Linked DNA regions of Homo sapiens: region 2 is linked to region 1. Evidence: fine-mapped expression QTL. A gene starts in region 1. The other region holds a variant in brackets. All regions are shown on one strand. Distances are between the middles of the regions.

Evidence for each region.
Region 2: its variant is fine-mapped to the expression of ZBED4 in whole blood (TOPMed, PIP 0.98).

Annotation. Positions count from the first base shown.
Region 1 is chr22:49,847,111-49,859,405 of GRCh38, forward strand. It overlaps ZBED4 (zinc finger BED-type containing 4), which reads left to right and starts at 6,734. Exons shown (of 2, transcript NM_014838.3): 1 at 6,734-6,879. LOC124905156 (basic proline-rich protein-like) reads right to left here and starts at 2,542. Exons shown (of 3, transcript XM_047441701.1): 1 at 2,488-2,542; 2 at 1,310-2,444. The coding sequence starts at 2,542. The coding sequence ends at 1,411. It overlaps LOC105373091 (sterile alpha motif domain-containing protein 1-like), which reads left to right and starts at 2,480. Exons shown (of 2, transcript XM_011530661.3): 1 at 2,480-2,970; 2 at 3,072-3,560. The coding sequence starts at 2,638. The coding sequence ends at 3,560. It overlaps LOC105377205 (a long non-coding RNA gene), which reads right to left and starts at 6,402. Exons shown (of 5, transcript NR_188597.1): 1 at 5,326-6,402; 2 at 3,972-4,097. It also overlaps LOC124905147 and a transcript of ALG12 not described here. RefSeq lists silencers at 6,082-6,171, 6,192-6,921, 7,092-7,381 and enhancers at 9,567-10,227, 11,830-12,295.
Region 2 is chr22:49,905,937-49,918,231 of GRCh38, forward strand. It overlaps ALG12 (ALG12 alpha-1,6-mannosyltransferase), which reads right to left. Exons shown (of 10, transcript NM_024105.4): 2 at 7,668-7,907; 3 at 7,449-7,581; 4 at 4,498-4,671; 5 at 3,958-4,152; 6 at 3,308-3,411; 7 at 1,785-2,008. The coding sequence starts at 7,829. Among named protein-coding and RNA genes, the nearest start is that of ALG12, 6.4 kb to the right of the region's middle. RefSeq lists a silencer at 12,092-12,291. The variant C/T (reference allele first, on the strand shown) is at 7,356.

The sequences.
Region 1 (12,295 bases):
TCTCAAAAAACAAACAAACAAAAAACTAGGCAATGCCAGGTGCAGTGACTCATGCCTGTAATCCCAGGACTTTGAGAGCCCGAGGCAGGCAGGTTGTTTGAGCCCAGGAGTTCAAGACCAGCCTGGGCAACGTGATGAAACCCCGTCTCTACTAAAAATACAAAAATTAGCCAGGTGCCTGTACTCCCAGCTACTCAGGAGGCTGAGGTGGGAGGACTGCTTGAGTCTGGGAAGTTGAGGCTGCACTGAGCTGTGATCACACCACCGCATTCCAGCATGGACAACAGAGCAAGACCCCGACTCAAGGTAACAAACAAAAAACAAAAACCCTGGGCAATATACACCTAATTGTTCTTAAAGTTATTCCTTTAGGGATGTGTCATAAGTAGTTTTTTCACCTTTTTACATACTTTTGCTGTTGACTGGACTATATACAGAGAACAACATGCCTGTTATGATTAGGGTTGCAGATAAAATACGGTACAATCAGTTACATTTTAATTCCAGATAATAATTTTTTAGTATATGTACGTGCTGTGCACTTTTTTTTTTTTTTAGACAGAGATTCGCTTTTGTCGCCCAGCCTGGATGGCCCAATCTTGACTCACTGCAACCTTCGCCTCCCGGGTTCGAGCGATTCTCCTGCCTCAGCCTCCCTGGTAGCTGGGATTACAGGAGCACGCCACCATGCTCCGCTAATTTTGTATTTTTCGTAGAGACGGGGTTTCACCATGTTGGTTAGGCTGGTCTGGAACTCCCAACCTCAGGTAATCCGCCCACCTCGGCCTCCCAAACTGCTGGGATTACAGGCGTGAGCCACCGCGCCCGTCCGGTCCCACGCAATTTTGTATTTTTATCCACCAAATCTGGCAGTCCCAGCTATGAACACAAGCTCCAAATGCCTTTCCACCCATGGACCCTCAGACAGAACCAAGGCCACCGCAGCCTGGAGCAGCTGCCGCCCCCACCCTTCCCAGCGCGTTCCCTTAACCCCCTTGCGTTCCAGCTCCCCCGGCTCCAGCACCTTCGTGACCTGAGCACCGGCGGGCTCCTGCTCACTGTCCAGCACCCGACGCACCTGTCCCCGCCGCGCAGTCCCTTCCCCCCGGCCTGAGCTTCCCTCCCGGCGCGCACTGCCCTTGTGACCCTTTCCCTCCCCGGCCACAGATGCAGCTCTCGGCCAGAAGCTCCACTTCCCCGAGGCCCTCGCCCCTGCCAGGCAGCTCCCCTGCGGCGTCGCCCACCCAGAGTTCTCCCCCTGGACGCTCCCTCAGTGCCCCCCTAGCAGCCCCGGCGGTCTTCTCCCCACCTTCAGCCCCCTCCCCGGTCCCCCAGGAAGGGGCCAGACTCCAGCTCAGCACCCAGCGCTTCCTGGTCTTTCCCTTCTGGGCGCCCTCCCGACAGTTCCCTTTAGGGAAGTTGGCCCGCTGCGCGCTCCCACCCCCGGCCGCCGCCTGGACAGAGGCGCGCAATCCGGAGGGCGCAGGCTCCGGCCCGGAGAAGGGGGTGCCGCCGGCGTTCCGATTTCTCAGGAATGGGGAAACAGAGGCACGGTGGATCCGGCGGCGGGGCTGGGTCTGGGGCTGGACGTTGACCTAGGACCCCGCCCCTGCCCGCCCTGCGCCGCGCCCCTCCCGGGCCGGCCTTGACCGAGCAGCTCCACGCGGGCCCGGGGCTCGTCCACCCGACAGGAGCGGGGGGCTGCAGCCCACGAGCCCACGAGCCCGCAGCGACGCACCCGGAGTGTAACCTCGCAGAGTCACGGAGACACTTTCCCGGTGTGGGCGCCTCGCCGCGCTTCCTCCCCGCGGGCTGCGGCCACCCCAGGGCAGGACAGAGCCGAGATGCCCGGGTGGGAGCGATGCCCGCGTGGGGGCGATGCAACGGGGGAGATGCCTGGGGGGAGGGTGGTAAGGTGAAACCTGGTGGAGAACAATGGGGGTGGGTGGGCGATTCCTGGGGAGGTGCCCGGTGTGGGGTGTTTCTGGTTCGCCCGGGGACAGTGCGCGTCCCCTCGCCCGCGGCGCCCGCCCTGCCCGTCCCACCGAGGTCCCCCGGGAGCGTCTGGGCCCACGGCTTCGGGGGGTTTCTCCGAGACCTGGGCGCTGTTCTGGGGGAGCAGGGGCCCGGGCCACCAAGGTTCGTGCGGACCGTGGGGTGTCCCACGCCCAGGCCGGGGGATCCCAGAGCCCCGCTTCCCTCAAGGGCGCCGCGCCCCGGACTGCAGGTGGAGACGGGGACCGGCCCCGCGGGGTCGCCGACAGGCGCGGGGCGGGACAGGGTGGGAGGCGGCGGGGCGCAGAGTCCTCCGGTCGCCGGCGCGATCCGGGCACCTTCCTGGAGGCGGCGGGAGCGCGGTCGCGGCGCCTCCGGGGTGGGGTCCAGGTTGGAGGCTCCGGGGCGCACCGCCCTAGCCCCACCCCGGCCGGGTCCCCGCGCTGCCTCTGCGGAGAGGGAGGAAGGAAGGAAGGCAGGGAGGGAGGGGACGGCCGGCAGGCGTGGGGTCCGCGGCGTCAGGGCTCCTTCCTCCCGTCCGCTCCATCCTGCAACCCGTAGCCCGGGCGGGGTCTCGCTGCCCCCTCCCCGAACACAGCCGCCTTTTCCTCCCTCCCCAACCCCGAGCGCCTCCCTTCCCGAATGCGGGAGTCCATAGTGCACGGGAAGCCTCTTCCCCTCCCCACCGAGGCTGCCCGACGCCCCTTCCACCCTCCGACCCCCCGCAACCATCCCTCAAATGCCCCGGCGGCCAGCAGGGCTGGGGTGGGCGCAGGAGAACCAGGGGTCCTGCCCGCATGCAGGGGTTTGGGGTCGGTGTGGCCGAATGAACGCGCGGGTTCAGACGAGCCTGTGATGCCCCCGCTTTCCATCTCCTCGCGACCTGGCCCCAGAAGACAGTCTGAGAGGCCGGTGGCCGCGGATCCTGGACGCGCTTCCCTCCTGCCTGTGGTTTCCCTTTATTCCGGCAGCGCTGTGAGTCCACCCTTCACTCATAGGAGCCACATCCAGAACCTTCTCCTGGGGCCACAGCGTGGGCTTCCGATACCTGTGTGACCCCAGCTCTGCCCCTTCAGGGCTGCGTGGTGAAGCCCTCAGGACCCTCCGCGTGGGTTGGGCGGGTGACGTGGATGAGGGACAACGTGGTGAGGTCCCCGTCGTGGCGAAGAGTGACCAGTAGGTGCCCAGGGCCCAACCCTCCTCTGCACCCGAGAGAAACCATCTCCTCTGCAGCAGCCCCCACCTGGACGCTCTGGAGTCCTCCCCACCTCCCTCCCCAGTGGGGCGCACAGCATTCTTGCTACCCTGAAAGGCAGACGGGAGGCACAGGGTGGCAGAGGGGGGCCAGGTCTGAGATTCCAGATGGAAGGGACCATGGGGCTCCACCCCACCACCACTGTAGGCAGGGGACTGGCAGGTGTACACCCTTACTCCCGCGGGGCCCAGGGACACAGCCACCCTCCTTTGAGGCCCTGGCCCTCAGGACCCTGCCACAGCGAGGTCTGTGCCTCCCCAGTGACCAGTGGTCACCGGGCTCGGGGTCACCCAGCTGCTTCCACATGTGACACCATCAGCTCCATGCCCTACCCCCAAGCTGGGCTCATAATCTTAATTCACAGCTAAGAAACTCAACCAAAGTCACATCACATGAGGGCGAACCCTCCAGGGCCACAGTGCTCCAAGCACGGAGGGCTCCCTGCCTTCGGAAGATGCTGTGGGTCCACCTGCAGCCTCAGTGGACAGAGGACCAGGGCACCAGCTGCTCTTCTGCCTCAGTGCGGAGCATCCCTGACTCGCACTGCCCTGTACAGGTGGGGCTCACAGTCTGTGCATGGAACTCAGATAAAACACCTGGCCCTGGGATGTCACACTTTGGTTCAGATGAATGAAAAAATAAGATACTGACACTCTGGATGACTAAGAATCGACTTATGTCTTTCCCGTGATGGGAAACTGTCCCATGAAAAGCCACTTACATGTTTGGATGGTCCTGTAGAAAATATTTTTTCTTCTCCTTATCGCAGTCTCTATGATGCATAAGAATGCAATTTAAGACAAACAGCAAATAAATACCATCTGTGTATGTACCAAGCACTTGCAGACTGAAAAAAAAAAAAGAAAAAGAAAAAATAAGATATTGTATCTTGGGCACACAGAAAGTGCCCATCAAAGATTAAATGAATGGACTGCAGCTGGTGGAGGCATGGGGTACTGGCTTGCCGAAACAGTCCCAGTTGATGCTGGGTCCTGGCCCCATGATGTCTAGTGTGCCCTTCCATGCTCCAGGGTGCCCCATTTGGGCACTTAGTCCAAGGGCCACCCGACATACAAAACAGTATCTTCCTGTGAGGGGCCAGAGAATAGGCCGCACCTGGCTGCCCTGCACAATTTGGAAGGCACTAGGAGGGACCTGTCAACCTGCACTCACTCACTCACCGGCAGGCCCCTTTGGGAAGAGCTGTTGCTCTTTGGCCCCAGGAATCTTCTATTTCTGCACATGAGTGCCAGGCAATTGTGGGGCCCCATTAACCTACTCCACAAAGCGTAGGGGGCCTTGCTCTCGGCACTGGGCATGCTCCCTCAGCACATACAACAAAGAAGTCCCCCCTCCCACTGATTCTAGCAGGAGGCTGTTGGGGGGCAGTCATGACACAGGCATATACAGTGTGTCAGATGTGTCAGAGCCCGGAGAGGGGATGAGGAGAGCGCAGTGTTACTTCCTAGAGCATGGCCCCGGAGAGCCTCCCACTATGCTGACATATGGGCAGCCGTCTGGGAGCTTGACACTGGCAGAGGGGAAGAGCAGTCCAGGCAGACAAGAAGTCAGTGCGAAGACCCCAAAGCAAGCATCAAGGAGGCTGGGGGCTGCTGCAGATCTGATGAGGGGATGGCAGGGGCAGAGCAGGCCTGAGAACACTGGCCTCCACTCTGAATGAAACAGGGATCCCCAGGCCGGGCACGGTGGCTCATGCCTGTAATCCCAGCACTTTGGGAGGCCAAGGCGGGCGGATCACAAGATCAGGAGATCGAGACCATCCTGGTCAACATGGTGAAACCCCATCTCTACTAAAAATACATAAATTAGCTGGGCGTGGTGGCGAGCGCCTGTAGTCTCAGCTACTCTGGAGGCTGAGGCAGGAGAATCGCTTGAACCCGGGAGGCGGAGGTTGCAGTGAGCCGAGATCACGCTACCGCACTCCAGCCTGGGGACAGAGCGAGACTCTGTCTCAGAAAGAAAAAAAAAAGAAAAAGAAAGAAACAGGGAGCCCTTTTTGGGTGTCAGTGCCTGGTCTCAACTCCATAGCTATGGTGGAAGGTAAAGCAGTTTACCTTTTAACTACATGAACAAGCATGGTGGTGTTCCAGTTGAACTCCTTAGGAAACCGACATTTTAATTTAATTTTTTTTTGGAGACGGAGTCTTGCTCTGTCACCCAGACTGGAGTGCAGTGGCGCGATCTCGGCTCACTGCAACCTCTGCCTCCCGGGTTCAAGCGATTCTTCTGCCTCAGTCTCCCGAGTATCTGGGATTACAGGAGCCCACCACCACGTCTGGCTAATTTTTTATTTTTTTTCAGTAGAGACGGGGTTTCTCCATGTTGGCCAGGCTGGTCTCGAACTCCTGATCTCAGGTGATCCACCCGCCTCGGCCTCCCAAAGTGCAGGGATTACAGGCGTGAGCCACCGTGCCCGGCCGATATTTGAATGTCATATACTTTTCATATATGCTAAAATACTGTTTTAATTCTCCCCCAACCTCTTAAAAACGAGAAAAGCATTCTTAGCTCAGGCACCATAGAAAACCCGGCTGCAGGCTGGACGTGGACTTTGGAACAGTCGGCGTGCGGGTGAAGGGGCACAGCCGCGGGGCAGGGGCGGGCTCCGGGCAGAGGCGGCCGTGATAACTCCACGCTCCCGCTCCAGCCGGTGACCGCCACGCGGGCTCCTCTCACTCTCACACTCAGGCCGAGAAAATGCCGAAAGCCGTGTCACCAACGGGGGACCTCGGGGCCACATTCAGCATGCAGAGTTTATTTGGTCTGCTCAAACATTTGTGTTAGGAAATAACACATTAAAAGTGCACATTTCCTTCAGACCCTGAGAAGCGGGCGAGTCCCGTGCGCTCCGCACCGCCAGCCCCGGCCCCGCGCTCGCCCAGAGGGCCGCCCTCCTCCCGCCGACCCGGCTTGGGGCTTAGGCGTTAATCCCGTCCCCCGGGGGGGCCGCGCGGGGAGCCCCGATCGCCTTAGGGTCAACGGCTTAGGTCCCAGCCCACGAGGCCTGACCGCACCGCACTGAGCGGCCTCTGCGCCAGGTAAGGGGGTTCGGGGCGGGACCGGGAACCGCGCTGCTAGCCGTCCCGGAAACCCGCGGTGGGCCGTTGGGTGCGCGCCGAGCCGCTGCCAACTGCCAAGCCACGGGACGAAACCAAGGCGCCCGCGCCCCGCCCAGCCAGAGCGCCTAAGCCCTTCCCGTCGCCCGCCAGCGCCGGAGCGCCCACTGCGCCTGCGTAGTTTGCCCTCCTGGACCCGGGGGCGGAGCCGAAGCGCGCATTGCGCCTGCGTCTTCCGCCCGACCCCGCCCCAGCGGCCGGGCCTCCGGCGCTCCGTCCTCCCGCCCGGCCAGGGACGAGGCGGGGCGGGTACGCGGACACTGCGCCTGCGAGAGTAGGCCCCGCCCCCGATCGGCCCCGCCCCCGGCCAGCCCCGCCCCGCGCCGCGCGGGGCCCTGGGAGGGGCGCAGCGTCCGGCGGCGTCGCGGGCGGCGGGCGGCGGGGCCGCGGGAGGGGCGCGGGGGCAGACAAAGCCGCGGTAATGAATGGAGCGTCCGCCCGCGCCGCCGTCGTCCGCAGCCGGCCGGGAGCCGCCCCAGAGGCCGGGCCGAGGTGAGTGCGCGGGCGCCGCCGCCCCGCCGCCTGCCGCGAGCCCCGTCCCCCGCGGACCGCGCCGGGGCCGGGCCGGGCCGCGCCATTGTCTGCGCCGCGCCGGGGCCAGGGCCGGGGCCAGGCGGGCGGGGGCGCGGTTCCGTGGCCTCGGGGTCCCCGCCCGGCGCCGCCCCGGACCCGCCCCCGCGCGGACCCCGGCCCTGACAGCTGGCGCGGGGGCGGCGCCGACTGAGCGGCCGAGTGCCGGGGGTCGGCGCCCGGCCTGGCCCACGTGCCCGCGCCGTTGCTTCCGGGCGGACGGGACGGGGCTCGGGCTCGGGGCGCCGCCCGGGTCCGCCGGGAGCGCGCTGTCCCGGCCACGTCGAGTTAACCCCGCGAGCCCCGTCCCTGGGACTTCTCTGGACGTGTCATTCCCGTCCCACCTCCAGGAAGGGCCACCTGGGCCCTGCTTCATGTCTCAGCCCAGACGGGTCCTTGCGACGCGCCCCGAGGCAGGTTATTGTACGTGGTTCTGGGGATGACCGTTCACATTTAATGAATAAAAATGTAACTTGCCTTGCGAACCATAATTTCAAATGTTTTTCGACTGCAGTGGTTTTCCTACACCCAAATGAGCTCGCAGTCAGTTTTGTTTCTTCTTTTGTCCCGTTGTGTGGCCCACACCGCCTTCGTTGCTAAGAGAATCGCAGCCCCTCGGGCTCCCTTCTGCGCCTTTCTATTCCGGGTGGCCCTGGTAGACCCGGGCACCTCTGTGGAAACACGTCCCGGCCAAGCTGAGCCGTCAGAAGCTTCTGTTGGTGTTCTCGTGTTGGTCGAAAGGGAAGTTATTTATTTTGAAGTTAACTCTGATCAGATTACGTTTTTAGAAATCCATTCAGACCTCATAGTGAGGCCAGTTTGGTAAAGCAAGGGCATCCTGCGACTTTTTACACAGAAATGTTTTTTATTTTTTCTGTGTATGTCATTCATAGTGACAAAATTGAGGCTAGGAAGGATTTGGTTGGGATTTTTTTTTAAGTGCTATGAATAAGCCACATTTTGATTATGAATTAATTGCAATTACTAAACAAAGTTACTTTGCAAGAGGAAAGTTTACAGGAGTTTGATTCCATACTCCGAGGGTTTCCAATGGGACGTCCGTACAAGGCTGCACACTTCCCGTAGTCCTTAAACGGATTATATCTGCTTGTCATGATTGGCTTTTTTTCAAGAAAAGATCTAGCACAAGTTAAGAGAGATTCTGTGAATCTTGAAAAAGCTTCAGAGGCCCGGTCTTTGAGGTGAGGACACAGTTAATCTATATGGAAAGAAACCTAAGACTTTTAGTCCACTTGACAGGTGGTTACAGGGTCTCCCCCAACACACACTCTTGTCCAGGTAATTCCTGAATAAGGTGGTTGATGTTGTTGGATGTAAAACCTCTGCTCTTTAAGGTTACCTCCTCCCCAACCCCCTCCACACACACAGTGAGTAACTCAGCTGTGCAAAGTATGTCCATAACACCTTGCAGAAAGACTAAAAAAATTACTAGGGGAGCGGACTGACTTCTGTGTGTGTGCAGAGGAGCTGAGAAGCAGCTTCTTTAGCGAAAGGTGTGTGTGTGTGTGTGTCTCAGATCCTTGGTGAGGAGCCCTGGGGAGTGGACTCCTGGCGGCATGAGGAGCAGGAAGTGACCGTGGTCAGTGCCGTCCTTCACTTTGTTTTGCGTTTTTTTCTTTGCCTGGCTTTAGCTTCTGGTCTCATTCTCTTTGGTGTGGTGGTTGTCTTTTGAGAGGAGGGAGCAGGTGAAACAGCTGGGCGTGGCTTTGCCCAGCCCTGGGGTAGAGGCCAAGCTGGCCCTTCCTTACCAACGTTGTTTCCTTCACTGTTTAAATCTCAGGACCTGAGAATGTACCTATAGGAATTGCTCTTATTTACATTTGGCTGTGTAAGAAAGTCACTGTGCCTTTAGCCCGTGACACCCCTTAGCGGTTTGGTTTTGGCTTTCTCTTTTAGTGTCTGTGGATTCCAGCAGCTCTCTGGCTTCAGCCCTTTCAAGGATTCGGGCCTCTCTGCATCCCAGCCTTCCAGGCCCTTCTGCTCCCCACTTTTTAGCACCTAGGTTTTTCTACATTCTGCAGTACCTCAGATCCCTTCCTTGGTCATCACTGGATATGTGCTTTTGTAGTTCAAATTCTGGGAGGCATTGTTAGGAATAAAATAAGCTCTTTGCCATTTCTGAGGCGGAGGGGAGCAGGAGAGACAGAGGTGCTTGCCTCTCTGCCTGCTGGGGCCATGGTGGTTTTCAAAGAAGGCCCTGGCCGTAGGGAACATGGTGGTGGTGAGGAGCAGCGTAAACCAGAGAAAAAGGCTCAGTAAGTGCTTCAAGGAGAAACACCGGCAGGTGAGAGCAGGGGTAATCCCAGTTTCTCAGGAAAGCATGCTCCGGAGACCTCATAGGGAGAGGAGGTTGCCCTGAAGGGTCTGGGGGCGATGGCGGAAGCCCCAGGAGAGCATTGTCCATGAGGTGCAGAGGCAGCCTCACGGCATCCCAGTGCGTACCTCCTGCCCGGCCCAAGCGCCTGCTGCTGAAGCCGCCTCCCAGCTCCCCCGGGTTGTTTCGGAATTCAGGGGACATGCAGCCTAAATGACCCACACTGGAATCCCGGCCGGCTTCCCATCCCTCGTTCTAGGTGAAGGCCGCGCTGGAATCCCGGCCGGCTTCCCATCCCTCGTTCTAGGTGAAGGCCGCGCTGGAATCCCGGCCGGCTTCCCACCTCTCGTTCTAGGTGAAGGCCGCGCTGGAATCCCGGCCGGCTTCCCACCCCTCGTTCTAGGTGAAGGCCGCGCTGGAATCCCGGCCGGCTTCCCACCCCTCGTTCTAGGTGAAGGCCGCGCTGCAATGCCAGCCAGCTTCCCACCTCATTCTAGGTGAAGGCTTTTCAGCAGCCATGGCCCATGTCTTTCCCAGCAAACTCTGTGTGCAATAGAAACAGCTGATGCTGGCCTGGCCCTGGGGATGGGGTTGTGACTGCTGCAGCCCCCTACCTGATTAGGGTCGGGAGGACCTGGCCCCCCGCCCTTCCTGCCTTGCCACCTCCACAGACAAACCCTGAGGGGCTGACTTCCTCCAAAGCTGCTCCTCATCGAGGCCCACCTGGTGGTCTCTGCTCCACCTGTTTGCTGCAGGGAGCAGGGTCGGGAGCATGTGCATTTCGGAGAGCTCTGGTTGCTCCGTCATAGAAGCCATGCTCCACATCCTGTAAGTGAGAGACTCCCCAGCAGCGTTCAGCCATAGCTGCGATGTCAGGCCTGTCACTAGTGGGACTGCCCGGACCCCCAAGGTATGGGTACACGGCGAGGGTGCTGGTGTTAAATACAGGGGACCCACAAAACCACCTAGCAGAACAATCCACATGACCCTGTCGTGTGACCCAGAACATTTCAGGGATGGAACACGGACCAGCTGACCTTAGCGTGGTCGCTGGCTTGCTCTGGAAGGTGCCGTTTCCAAGACGCCCTTACCTGGGTTCCTGAGCACGTCTGACAGAGCAGCTCTGACTCCGGGTTTCTGGAGTCAGACCCCTTGCCACTGTCTTTGACCTTTAGCTTTGGGTTCCCCTTCTCAGTTTGTTTGTTTGTTTGTTTATTCTCACTCTGTCACTCAGGCTGGAGTGCAGTGTTACAATCTCGGCTCACTGCAACCTCTGTCTCCTGGATTCAAGTGATTCTGCTGCCTTAGCTCCCTGAGTAGCTGGAATTACAGGCACCCGCCACCGCACTCAGCTAATTTTTGTTTGTTTTTTGAGATGGAATCTTGCTCTGTCACCCAGGCTGGAGTGCAATGGCACAATCTCAGCTCCCTGCAACCTCTACCTCCCAGGTTAAAGCGATTCTCCTTCCTCAGTCTCCTGAGTAGCTGGGATTACAATAGGCGTGCGCCACCGTGCCCGGTTAATTTTTTTTTGCATTTTTAGTAGAGACGGGGTTTCACCATGTTGGCCAGGGTGGTCTCGATCTCCTGATCTCGTGATCCGTCCACCTTGGCCTCCCAAAGTGCCAGGACAGGACTACAGGCGTGAGCCACCGCGCCCAGCCAGTTTTTGTATTTTTAGTAGAGATGGGCTGTCACCATGTTGGCCAGGCTGGTCTCAAACTCCTGACCTTAGGTGATCCACCCGCCTTTGCCTCCCAAAGGGCTGGGATTACAGGCGTGAGCCACCGTGCCCGGCCCCCTTCTCAGTTTAGCCCAGACCTGGATGTTGGCTTCTGTGTGGGCAGCTGTTGTGAGCCATGGCTCCTGCTGGAATTTGTGGCAGTTGATGCTGCTGTGCACCCCCAGAATAGGTGAAGGCTACTCAGGTGTAGCCCCGATGGTAGTTTATGTCCTCAGGAGGAGAAACTGCCATGTCCCCGTCTGAACCAGGCCCGGAGTCTTGATGCATAGCTCTTTGCCTCCCTGGGTATACTCGACAGCTTGTTGAGAGTGCGTGTGCTCTGAGTTGAACACGAATATATTTCTGTTGTTTGAAGGTTATTATAAAGTTTCTAACTTACAGAGTTGGCACTCCTACGTCCCTTGCCCCCAGCTGGAGCTACCGTGACTGCCACCAGCTGCCACCTGGCACGTGCTGAACTGTCTTGAAGGAAACTGCAGATATCTGGACACTTCTCTAAGTGTTCTTTCTCCTAAGAAAGGGAAAGGGACATTCTACTGTCTAATGACAGTCGCGTCATCGATGGCGTCTACAAAACGTGACTGTGTCCCTTGGCGTCATCCAGTAGCCAGTCCACGGTCTGAAGTTGTCCCCCAACGTCTTTACTAGCTGTTTTTCCCAACCAGAATCGAGTACAGGGCCACGTGTCACAGTGGCTGTGAGGTCTCTTTGCGTTCCGGTGCCCCCGGAGCACCCCCTGTGATCTGGCGGTGGGAGGCCTGATTTGATACAGGGGCACGTTTGGGGCGCAGGTGATGCTGTGTGCTGCACTGTGGGCGGAGGCTGTCCCATGAGGACGGATGCGACTTTGCTCACTGGCCCTTTAAATTGTGTCCCTGCCCCCCACAGTTGGCGAGTTAGATGAGGGGGTGTCTCGGGGTGTGTGGACGCTCTGCTCCCATCAGACCTCCACATGCTGTTTGCTGGTCTCCCCAGAACCTGTGGGCAGTGGCACCTTGGCTTTAGTATGCTGTTGTTCTTTTTTTCTTTATTTTTGTCTGTGTTTCCCTTCTTTGTTACGTCTTAGAAAATGCTGAGTTCTTTCTCTTTATTACCAATTCTTAGCGGAAGATGGTCTAGTAGACACCTCTGTGGGGGCAAATTTTTACTTTTCCTTTGTCTTCCTTGAGTATCAAGGTGGACTAGTGGATTTTATTTATTCCATGTCATAATCTAGTAAAGCCTTTTGTTTTGTGATGCTCAAATAGCTATAAATGTGA
Region 2 (12,295 bases), 59 kb after region 1:
TGTGGAAAGCTCGCAATCAGAAACCTTCCACCCCCAGGACTGTCTCAAGGCCCTGGGCCCTGACACCGTGGGAAACGGCCTGCTCTTGCTCCCAGGGTGGCCGGGCTGAGGACCTGACTTCGGAGGGGGCCTTGCTCTACCCTGCACCCCCTCATTTGGACTCCCCAAGTTTGTCCTCCTCCGGATAAGGCCGACTGGCACAGCAGGGGCCCTTGCATGGAGCAGCCCCTCACGCCCAGCACACCAGGCCTCAAAGACACAGAGCTGGGTCCAGTTCCCACTGGATCTTCTTCCCTGCTGGAAAAGCCTGTCACCGAATACAATCCATCCGCGCCGCTCTCCCCGTCTTTCCTACCCTCTTTTCCATGACTCTGGCTGGGGTCTGCTCCTCCTCCAGCCCTGAGCCGACCCCTGAGACGAGAGGGAGCCAAAGGCACAGAAAAGCAGAGGCAGAGCTCCCAGGAGCCCCCACTGAGGCGCGGCTACAGCAGCCAGAGGAGCCCCCAACCCAGGCACGGCCACGGCAGCCGGAGGAACCCCCAGCGAGGAACAGTCACGGCAGCCAGAGGAGCTCCCAGGCCCGAGGGCAGTGCGGGGCAGTCGGAGCTGGGGGGCACCATCCCCTCCCCTGTAACAAGTGGCACCGGAAAGCACCTGACCGCTGCCTGAGATCAGGGACCGCATTGTGGGGCTTCCTCTCCAGCCAGAGTGGGCACCTCTCAATGCCCCAGGCCGCGGCCCTCCTGGCCTGTAGCCCTGCCGCCCCTCAATGCCCAGCGTGGCCTGAGTTGGCCTCCTGTTCCCATCAAGGCAGCAAACTCTGAACGGGCACAGAGCTGGCCAGCCTCAGCCCTGGGTTCTTCCGCAGCACCCACAGGGCCAGCAGTGATGGACTCTCCTGGGCCTGAGCCCCGGGTCCTTCCCCAGCACCCACAGGGCCCGGCAGTGATGGACTCTCCTGGCTCCCTGAGGCTTGCAACACTGAGTGGCAGCCGCGCTCAGACCACCCCACCCTCAGCCCAGGCAGTGCCCTCCCCAGGCCCTGCCAGGCCCCCAGCTCCACCTCCATCACCTGCTGCCTGCAGTCCCTCCCCGCAGGAAGCCCCCTGCCCTCCACAGGACCTTGAGCCTGGGCCACGCTGGGCCCTCTGCACCCAGCCATAGGCACCTCCCTCACCATCCCCCTCTTCCAGCCAGATGACCCGCCTTGACAAACGCCCTCAAGCCCGAGGCCCTGTCAGGATGGCCACGAACGCCCTTCCTCTACCTGACCTGTCGCCCTCAGAGCCTCCCAGGCCTGGCTGCCCCTGCCCTCTGCCGCTGCTACCTATGTGAGTGTCACTCTCCCATGACAGAGACTGGGACCGCTGGTGCATCACCATATGTGGACCAGTCACCAAATTAACCCAAGACAGAGACCACCTGAGCAAAGCCCTCTGTCAGCACAATGCCAGGCCGGTCCCATCCCATGCAGCCCTCAGGGAGGAGAGAGGACTGGGGTCACCCTCCTTTGACATAAGCGCCTAGTTCAACACACCCTGTGTTTATCTTAAAAAACAGCCCTGGTGGCTCACACCTGCAATCCCAGCACTTCCAGAGGAGGAGGCAGGAGGATGGCTTAACCCCCTAGGAGTTGAGGGGTGCAGTAAGCCCCACTCCAGCTGGGCGACAGAGCAAGACCCTGTTTCAAAAATTAAACACACACATACATCCCCCCAACAGTAAATCAGTGAACCTGTTTCCAATGAAACTATAAAAATGCATGTCACAAAAAGAGCACTCACAGGTAGGAGCAGCCTCTGGCAGCCGTGATGTTGAGCATGGGGAAGGCATAGATGATGAAGCGTAGCTCCTTGTGTGGCAGGAGGGAGTAGAGTGCCATGAAGCCCAGTGCCAGCACCGTCGGCGCGTGCGTCCTTCTGTCTACCAAGCCCAGGGGGATGAAGAGCAGGCTGCAGCCCAGGCCGCGGGGCAGGGCTGAGTAGAAGTACCACAGCAGCGGGGAGGTCTGCGGGCTGGGTTAAGGAGGCCACGCACCTGTCCACGCATGAGCCCGTGGGCTAGGTGGCAGGGTCAAGGTGGAGAAGACGCTTGAAGACAGTTGTGCTGAGAGATGCAGCCTGGACCACGGCTCGTGTGCACAGACACCACTCAGGCCTCAGGCCCCTCCTAAAAGACAGAGCCCAGGCCACAGCTCGGGTGCACACATACCACTTGGGCGTCGGGCCCCCTCCAGGCAGGACCAAGGCAGCAAGGGCCACAGGACGTTCGGTCTCTGTACCCTTTTCTTCACTGTTAAAAACAGATGGTCGGCCGGGCGCAGTGGCTCATGTCTGTAATCCCAGCACTTCGGGAGGCCAAGGTGGGTAGATCACGAGGTAAAGAGATCGAGACCATCCTGGCCAACATGGTGAAACCCTGTCTCTACTACAAATACAAAAATTAGCTGGGCATGGTGGCATGTGCCTGTAATCCCAGCTACTCAGGAGGCTGAGGCAGGAGAATCACTTGAACCAGGGAGTTGGAGGTTGCAGTGAGCCGAGATCATGCCACTGTACTCCAACCTGGCGACAGAGTGAGACTCTGTCTCAAAAAAAAAAAAAAAAAAAACCAAAAAACAAAAAACAGACGGTCACGGGTGACACACATGTTGGGATTCGTTATGCTGTTCCATCTATGCGTGTATGTTTGACATAATTCCTAAGAAAGCACTTTTTAAATGCAGATTGTCCGGGCCGGGCGTGGTGGCTCACACCTGTAATCCCAGCACTTTGGGAGGCCAAGGCAGGTGGATCACCTGAGTTCAAGAGTTCAAGATCAGCCTGACCAACATGGTAAAACCCCACCTCTACTAAAAATACAAAAATTAGCCAGGTGTGGTGGCGTGCGCCTATAGTCCCAGCTACTCATGAGGCTGAGGCAGGAGAATTGCTTGAACCAGGGAGGTGGAGGTTGCAGTGAGCCAAGATCATACCACTGTACTCCAGCCTGGGCGACAGAGCGAGACTCAGTCTCAAAAAAAAAAAAAAAAAAGCAGATTGTCCGAGGAGCAGAGGAGAGGCTGGGGTAATCTGGGGCAGGGCTGTTTCCAGCCCTCAGGCTGTTTCCTGGCTGAGAGAGGGCAGCCAGGACCTCACCTCCCATGGCCAGCATTTCCCAGGAGCAAGTGGGAGGGAGGGGCTCCATCCTGACCCTGCAGCCACGCTGCAGAGAAGGGAGAAGCAGCTGCTTCCACTGCCCATGGAGGCCCAGGAGATGTGGCTGCAGGTCCCACCCATCGCCCTCCTGCACGGACACTGAAGGATACCCCCCAGTTGGAGCTTTTGTTCAGGACAGTGTTGTACCAAAGCACCTTTCCTTCCGGCCAAGTGAGCTGCCGCCAAAAATAAGAGTCCACAGCAACCGTCAGTCCTGACAAAATAAAATAGAGTTTCTTAGTCGCAAACACAGCCATCAGTAAACATCCCGCCACAATGCAGCCCCCATCACTACAGAAACTACAAGCTGCTTTCATATAAAAGAGGTTGGGCAGGGTGGGAAGATTGCTGGAGCCTAGGAGTTCAAGGTTGCAGTGGGCCATGATCATGCCACTGCACTCCATCCTGGGTGACAGAGCAAGACTATCTCTAAAACAAAAAAAGAAAAAAGACACCAACTGTGTCGAGGACACCACTGCCCAGAACCACCGCCTGGCGCAGGGACAAGCCGCCCTCCACTCTTGTGGCCTCCCCCAGCCCAAGGACAAGGGACAGACCAGTGAACAGGGGCTCCTAAGGCGCACGGTGGGTCCCCCTGGAGATCCCCGGGCAGGGGGCTTAGGATTGAAATGTTTTCAACACTGCTAAATTTAGGGTCATTTTATTTCATGGGGATGAAAACCTCCCAAATTTCTCTTGACCTTTGTAAAACAAGGCAAAACAAAATCCAGTTAGAAGCATCCCACAGTGACTGACTTACCTAAACAGAGGATCCCTGCCGGGACGGCGTGGCGAAGGGCTCTGACTACAGAAACCTTTCGGTTGCCCAAGGCCAGCAGCAGCAGGAGGCCCAGGAACAGGCACAGCTCCACCCTGAACACGATGATGGCGAAGGCTGACAGCCAGATGAAGCGGGCCCACTCGTGCCGCAGCCAGGCCGCGAGGGCCAGCAGGACTGCAAGACAGTGCGGGAGGGTGCTCGTCAAGACACAGGGCCCACCCGGCCCAGAAAACACCCGGGGAAGTGAAGGGTGATTCCTTTTCCTATTATAAAAGCCACACAAATATCCCAGAAAAGAAACTGCTCAGAGCCGCTCCCCGCACCTATGCTGTTGGCCAGGAAGTGTGTCCCAACCCAGCATGGAAAACAAAGAGCCTGGTTTCAGGTCACAGACCATCCTGAGGAACCCAGTGGGGAATGGCCATTACGGGGGAGGCACTGCCATCAGCTGCACAGCCCGACTCAGGGGAGCCCCTGCCCGGCACCATGGGTGTGCAGGCCCGGCCGGCAGCTACGTACCTACAGGCAGGGCCAGCACATTGGGCAGTGTCCGCGTGCAGTAGAACATCAGGTGGAACTGCATGGCCGTCACCCAGCAGAACATGGTGGCCACCATGGCCCCGAAGTGCCGTCTCACTTCCTTTTGTAACGTCCAGAGTCCAAAAATCACGCCGAGTCCAAGCACTCCTCTAACTAAACAAAGACAGTGACAGCACCTGAGCCTGCAGTGGAGGAGTATCCAGTGGGGCCCCCTACGTGGGTCCTTCTACACAGATCTTTCTATATGGAGTTTTCTATGCTGCTGCAATGCCAGCTGACGGCTACGTCAGGCAAAGCAGCCTTGAGGGCATCGTCTCCATGTTGAAAACAGACGACTGGACCCAGGCCCCCTGCGCTCCTGTCGGGAACTGAGGACCCTTGCGGGGGCTGCTCTCTGAAGCATGAGGGAGGACACACAACTTGGGGGTGCCACGAGCTGAGCCCTACACTAAACCAGAGACCCCACCGGGCTGTGGCATCTCCAGGGGAAATGTTTGCAAAGGCCGGGCTCAGACCTTGCTCTAACCAGCAGCCATGAGGAGGTGGGATGTGGCAGGAACACAGGCTCCCAGGCAGGAAGGGGGTCAGGACCCCTCTCCCCATTTGACAGCAGGAGCCACCTCTGGGCTGGTGGTCTGATGAGGAGGTGGTGAGGGGGCAGGTGTGCCCAGGACAGTACCCAGCCGACCACACATCCTCACCGTGGACCGGCCTGTCAGCCGCTGGCAAGAGACTGAAAACAGGAAGAAAAATGAACTTCTGGGTGGCTCTTGCTACCTTTCCAGAAGGCCAGAGGAACTTCGAAGCCATGTGAGAAGCAACTGGGTCCAGGCAGCTGTGGGGGCCAATGGGCAGAGATACCCAGGCACTGCCAAGGGGGCCACGGATGTCTGAGGGCTGGACCTGCTGTTCCCAGAATACCCCATGTGCATACCAGGCATTTTCTTTTCACTGATTGCTGGATTCGGACTGCAAATGTCTTTTTTTTTTTCTTTTTAAGGACAGAGTTTCCCTCTGTTGCTCAGGCTGGAGTGCAGTGGCATAATCTCGGCTCACTGCAACCTCTGCCTTCCGGGTTCAAGCAATTCTCCTACCTCAGCCTCCGGAGTAGCTGGGATTATAGGCGCATGCCAACACGCCCGGCTAATTTTTGTATTTTTAGTAGAGACAAGGTTTCCCATGTTGGCCAGGATGGTCTCAAACTCCTGACCTCAGGTGATCCCCCCGCCTCGGCCTCCCAAAGTGCTGGGATTACAGGCGTGAGCCACCATGCCCAGTCTGAATGTCTTAATAGGACATTTTTCACTGATACTCACAAGTGGGTCTGGCTCCAGCTGCTGTATTTTTGGTGCTGGAATTTCCCCCGGGCTTTTAAACAATTCACAGACCCCAGCAAAGCCCCGCTTCCCCTTTTCCCCATCAGGTCCATCCCCTGCGTCTCTTCTCTTGGTTTTCCATCTTCCCAAATGCCCAACAATCTCAACCCCGTGCCCAACAAGGGTAGCCTCGGCCTCACGATCAGCCTCGGCTGCGGGATCACCCTCGGCCCCGGGATCAGCCTCGGCCACGGGATCACCCTCGGCCCCGGGATCAGCCTCGGCCGCGGGATCAGCCTGGCCCCGGGATCACCCTCGGCCCCGGGATCACCCTCGGCCCCGGGATCAGCCTGGCCCCAGGATCACCCTCGGCCCCGGGATCACCCTCGGCCCCAGGATGACATGCTCTTCATCCAGAGAGGAAGGATTTTGGCCTGTGGCAGGGGCTGGGGGGGGCACTAGCAATTCCAGGTCACCTTAGTGGGATCAGGAAGGACACAGGGTGGGCTCCCGTTCACCAGCTGAAGCTGCAGCCCTCCAAGGTTCTGTCCAGCTGGAGTCCACCCAGCTCTGCCCAACCTCCCAACCTCTTGCTGCCAACCCTGGAATAAGCAGAAGCTTCCAAGGGAATGTGGACTCAGCCCCGGAATTGCCTGTGGACTTCCTTTCCCTGGCTCGTGGCCCCCCAACTCCTCCCCATTTGGGGCTTCCTGATGCCTCTACAGGACATGCACGGCTTGTCCAGCTGTCCCCGTGCCATGGTGGGTTTCCGTTCCCAATCTGCCCCTTCAAGAAGCAGAACTGCTCCTTCCCCAGGAACGTGCTACTTCTTAAAGCTCTCCACACAAGCTGGACTGACTCGCTGGAAGCATGTCTGGGTATTAAAAGCAATAAAAGCGTACTGAAATAAAAAAGTGGTGATTGCTGACTTCAAAAACTCAGGTTGTGTGACTGGGCGTGGTGGCTCATGCCTGTAATCCCAGCACTGTGGGAGGCTGAGGTGGGACAATCACTTGAGCCCAGGAGTTCAAAGCTGTAGTGAGCTATGATTGCACCACTGCACTTCAGCCTAGGTGACACAGCAAGGCCCTGTCTCAAAAAAGAAAAAAAAATCGGTTTTTAGAACAATATGTACAAAACGTTCTAATTTTTTTTTTTTAAAGTCCTCATGTGGGCACAGAGAAAGACCCAGGATTTGCACACAGGCCCTGCAGTGGTGGCCTCTGGGAATGTGAGGTTTCTGTTTGTAACATTCCCCAAGGCAAATGGTGCTGCTTCTGCAGGAATAAAGGCTGTTGACCCCATGGGGGCTTGCCAGGTGAGGCGGGAGCAGCAGGCTCAGGTGGCGAGAGCTGCCTCACAGGCAGTCGGCATTTCTCTTGTACCTGCCGTCACCCCTAATTTCACAGTCAAGAGTGTGGAGGCACAGAGGGGCTGACTCAGACGTCTTAGGCCTGACCTGAGCACCTGCTCTGAGCCGCCATGCCACGGTGATCGAGGGCAGGCAAGACTAACAGACAG[C/T]GTTCCTGGGCAGGAGGGACCGCGGCCTCGCTGAGGTCACCCGATGACACCACAGTCCCTCACTCCCTCCTCCTTTGTTGAAGACCCCCTTACCTATTAGCTGAGAGTAAAACTTGGACATTTCTAACAGCGAAAGCACGTAAACCGCGGGGCTGGAGAACACTGCGATCACCACTGGCCCGAGGAACGTCCTGGGGACGACTCCGGGGAACTCAAGATGGTCGTACTGCGAGGAGAAGGGCAGGTCAGTGCACCGGGGCCCTGCCAGCTGGTAACATGAGGTTTTCCCCAAAGACAGCAGGGGCCCCTCACCTGCTCCAGGTCTTGCCAGTGGTAGAGCAGGTCATGTGTGGCCTGCAGGTTGAAGCTCTCCTCCACTTTGGTGTAGGGACAGATGACCAGGTGGACAGTGGCTACGGCCACCAGCAGCCCCAGCAGCAGGGGCCGCCTGCCTGATGACCCCTTTCCAGCCATTCCAGGCTTTCAGCTTCACGTACCTTCACAGGCCAACAGTGCGAGACACCAGCCGTTAGCACTGCCACTCCACGCATGCTGGAAAAGTGGAAACAGATTCCTGAGGTTCGAAAGTCACGCTTGCGCTCACGTTTGGGAGATCCGGGTAAAGGGTTAGCAGAATTCTCTGAACTACTGTCTTAGTCGCACTACTACAAATCTGAAAACGCATCAAGATGGAAAGTTTGGAGAAAAAATCACACTTGAGAATCTTTCATACTGTAACCAGTGATCTGACACTTCCAGCTCTGTGAATGTTTTTCTAGGCAGAAGGATCTCAGTCGCAGAACCCTGAGTCTGACCAGGCCTGGGCCACGAGGGCAATGGAGGGTGGTAAATGGCCCCTGCCCCCCAGTCTAAATCTGGCAGGAGAGTCAGCAAAACCCAGGCTTGGCCCCGAGGGAACCGGCTGAAGAAGACGGAATGGGAGGCTGAGGGGTGCCAGTTAGCTGGGTGGGAGGCACCAAGCTGGAGAGTGGTGGACAGGGGCCCCGGGAGGGCAAGAAACTGAACGTAGTACAGCTGCTGGGACACAGGGCTCGAGTGGCCAGCAAAGCCCCCGCTCCCAGGAATGGTGGGATGGGGCTGTGGACGCCTGCGCCGAACCCCACCCTGGGGGCTGGGAGAAGCCATGGCCGGCTTTCCCAAAGGTGGCACCACACTGGCCATGAGCCTGCATGTGAGCCTGGGAAGACTGGCAATGGGTCCCCCAAACACTAACAGGACAACCTCAGGGGCCCGTGGCACGGAGCTTCCTGAGAGGCCAGCAACATGTCCAGCTGCTACACGTGAGAGACCAAGGGAGGGGAGGGGGCAAACTCTTCACGTTTCTGGCTTCTTTTAAAACAGATTTGATTTTATTCAATCCAAACCAGAAGGGCCAGAAGCAAAGGGAGAGAGAACCCCAGGGCTTACCATTTATTAAAACTACTTTAAAAATTTTTTTTAAGAGACAGCGTCTTACTCTGTCACCCAAGCTGGAGTGCAGTGGAGTGATCATGGCTCACTGCAGCCTCAAACTCCTGGGATCCTTTTGCCTGAGCCTCCTGAGTAGCCGCAGCTACAGGTGTGGGTCACCACACTCAGCTAAGTTTTCTTATTTTTTGTAAAGACAGGGTCTTGCTTTGTAGCCCAGGCTGGTATGGAATTCCTGGCTTCAAGCCATCTTCCTACCTTGGCCTCCTGAAGTATTGGGATTACAGGCGTGGGCCACCATGCCCAGCCAAAACTATCTTTTGATCAAACGGAGAGTTAAGAAGTATACAAAGATGGCAACCAAAGGAAAATCTGTAGATTAGAAGGAAGGAGAACCCTATTTGATATGGTGGGCAGGGGGTGGAGAGAAAGAAAAAAGAAAGCTTTAATAATTTTACGACTGAAATGGTATGCAGTTCTCTCCTTTGCCAAATATAAAAACCTGGGGCCGGGCGCGGTCGCTCATTCCCGTAATCCCAGCTCTTTGGGAGGCTGAGGGCCAGGTGCGGTGGCTCATTCCCATAATCCCAGCTCTTCGGGAGGCTGAGGTGGGTGGATCACGAGGTCAGCAGATCAAGACCATCCTGGCCAACATGGTGAAACCCTGTCTCTACTAAAAATACAAAAATTAGCTGGGCATGGTAGTGCACGCCTATAATCCCAGCTACTCGGGAGGCTAAGGCAGGAGAATCGCTTGAGCCCAGGAGGCAGAGGCCGCAGTGAGCCGAGATCACACCACTGAAATCCAGTCTGGGCCACAGAGCGTGACTCCGTCTCAGAAATAAATAAATAGATAATAAAAAAATTTAAAAAAATAAACTTGGTATCAAACAAAGAGAAAGGTCGAAGGACTAGGTTAGGAATCACTAACTGAGGGAGGGCCCACTCAGCTGTCTCCCACTTGCTAAGACACAAGCTTTTTGACGGTGGGGGGTTTTTGATGCTGGATGATTTTTCCCACCAGCGCAGCCTCAGCACCAAGGACAGAGGCCAGCCGCTGTGGCCTGAAGGCTGCCTCGCTGCCACCTCCCCTGCTGGACTCATCCTGCGGGCAGGGCTTGCTTGGTGGACTCACTGCTGAATCAGCAAAGCCTGCCGCACAGTAGGCACTCAACAAGGCTGCCGAAGAAGAAATCGGTAAAAACTCCTACATGGGGTTCTCATCACACCAGCTCACGTGCTTATTAAAAATTCCAGCAGCCGGGAGCGGTGGCTCATTCCTGTAATCCCAGCACTTTGGGAGGCTGAGGCGGGTGGATCACAAGGTCAAGAGATCGAGACCAGCTTGGCCAACATGGTAAAACCCCGTCTCTACTAAAAATACAAAAAAATTAGCTGGAGTGGTGGCGAGTAGTCCCAGCTACTTGGGAGGCTGAGGCAGGAGAATGGTGTGAACCCAGGAGGTGGAGCTTGCAGTGAGCCGAGATCGCGCCACTGCACTCCTGCCTGGGCGACAGAGCAAGACTCCATCTCAAAAATAAATAAATAAATTAATTAAATTAAATAAAAATATGTTCCAACGGCCGGGCGTGGTGGCTCATGCCTGTAATCCCAGCACTTTGGGAGGCTGAGGTGGGTGGATCACAAGGTCAGGAATTCAAGACCAGCCTAGCCAGCATGGTGAAACCTCATCTCTACTAAAAATACAAAAATTAGCTGGGCATGGTGGTGTGCGCCTGTAATCCCAACTACTTGGAAGGCAGAGGAGGAGAATTGCTTGAACTCGGGAGGCAGAGGTTGCAGCAAGCCAAGATCGCACCACTGTACTCCAGCCTGGACAACAGAGCCAGACTCCGTCTCAAAAAAAAAGAAATAGGAAGCAAGCCGGATGTGTTGGCTCACGCCTGTAATTCCAGCTACTCAGGAGTTCAAGACCAACCTGGGCTACAGAGCCAGACCCCATCTCCACAAAAATAATCCCAGCTACTCAGGAAGCTGACATGGGGGGTACTGCTTGAGGCCCGGAGTTCAAGACCAACTTGGGCTACATCATGAGACCCCATTTCTACAAAAATAAAAAATAAAACGGAACGGGGAGCATCTACGTGCCAAGATGTGGGAGGTGCACACAGCAAGTGCTGCTTGGCAGTCCCCCACAACCCCACTCCACACCTCTCCACCCAGGGGAGTTCCCCAGCAAGGAAGAGTTCAGCTGTGGGGTGAAAACATTACGTGCTGACTCTGACACTCCTGGCGGGCCCCCAGCACCTCCTCGGACCCAACAAGGTGTGCCTTCTGCTGATGACCAGCACAGCTCACTTTCGAGGGCATGAGAAGACCAAGGGTGAGTCTGGATTCTCTGCCAGGAGCACGGGAAGACCAAGTCAACACCAGCAAGCACGAAAACCACGACGAACCCCCCACCAGGCGAGGGTGAACGGACACTGTCCTGCACTAGCCCACTCTGCTGGGCAGCTGGGCAGCAGCTGTGGCTAATCTAAGTGACGGGTGCTTCGAGAGCACCCACAGGTTAAAACGGGCCCAGGCCATGACACTTTAAAATGGTGGTTTACAGAACAATGGCATCTCAGATTAGGGAATGACCTGCAAAGACCCTCTTGTCCCCATCAATCCAGATTTTAAGGCCTCTACCGAAATTGATCAAATCAGGCTAAGCATGGTGGCTCACGCCTGTAACCCTAGCACTTTGGGAGGCTGAGGCAGGCAGATCGCTTGAGGTCAGGACTTCGAGACCAGCCTGGCCAACATGGTGAAACCCCGTCTCTACTAAAAATACAAAAATTAGCCGGACCTGGTGGTGGGTGCCTGTAATCCCAACTTAGGAGGCTGAGGCAGCAGAATCACAGGAACCTGGAAGGCGGAGCTTGCAGTGAGCTGAGATCGCGCCACTGCACTCCAGCCTGGGCGACAAAGTGAGACTCCGTCTCAAAAAAACAGAAAAGAAACTGGTCAAATCAGATGTTACTTTTTTTTTTTTTAAATGTGCAGTGTTATCTGCACTCCTTCCTTCCACAGGCAGGAGTTCTCTGAAATCCAGACGCTGCACGTTTTATTTCCCCTAATTTAAACCAGGGGTTCCTGAACATGAGCGAGTGTTCATCACCTCAAGCGCCTGTAGAAATGCAGATCCCCAGCCCCCAGAGACCCTAAGTGGACCCCAGATCCCCAGCCCCCAGGTGAAAAACCCATCCCCCAGGTGGGAGGTCCGGCCCCAGGTGAGGAGCCCGGCCCCAGGTGAGAGGTCCAGCCCCAGGTGAGAGGTCGGGCCCCCGGATGAGAGGTCCGGCCCCCGGGTGAGAGGTCTGGCCCCCAGGTGACAGGTCCAGCCCCAGGTGAGGAGCCCGGCCCCAAGTGAGGGGTGCAGCCCCAGGTAAGGAGCACGGGGCTGTGACGCGTGGACATGCGCGGTGAGGCCTCAGGAATCCAGCGCCAGCGCCAGCTCGGGTCGCGCCCTCGCCCGCCTCCTCCCTGGTCTCGCCGCGCGCCCGCCT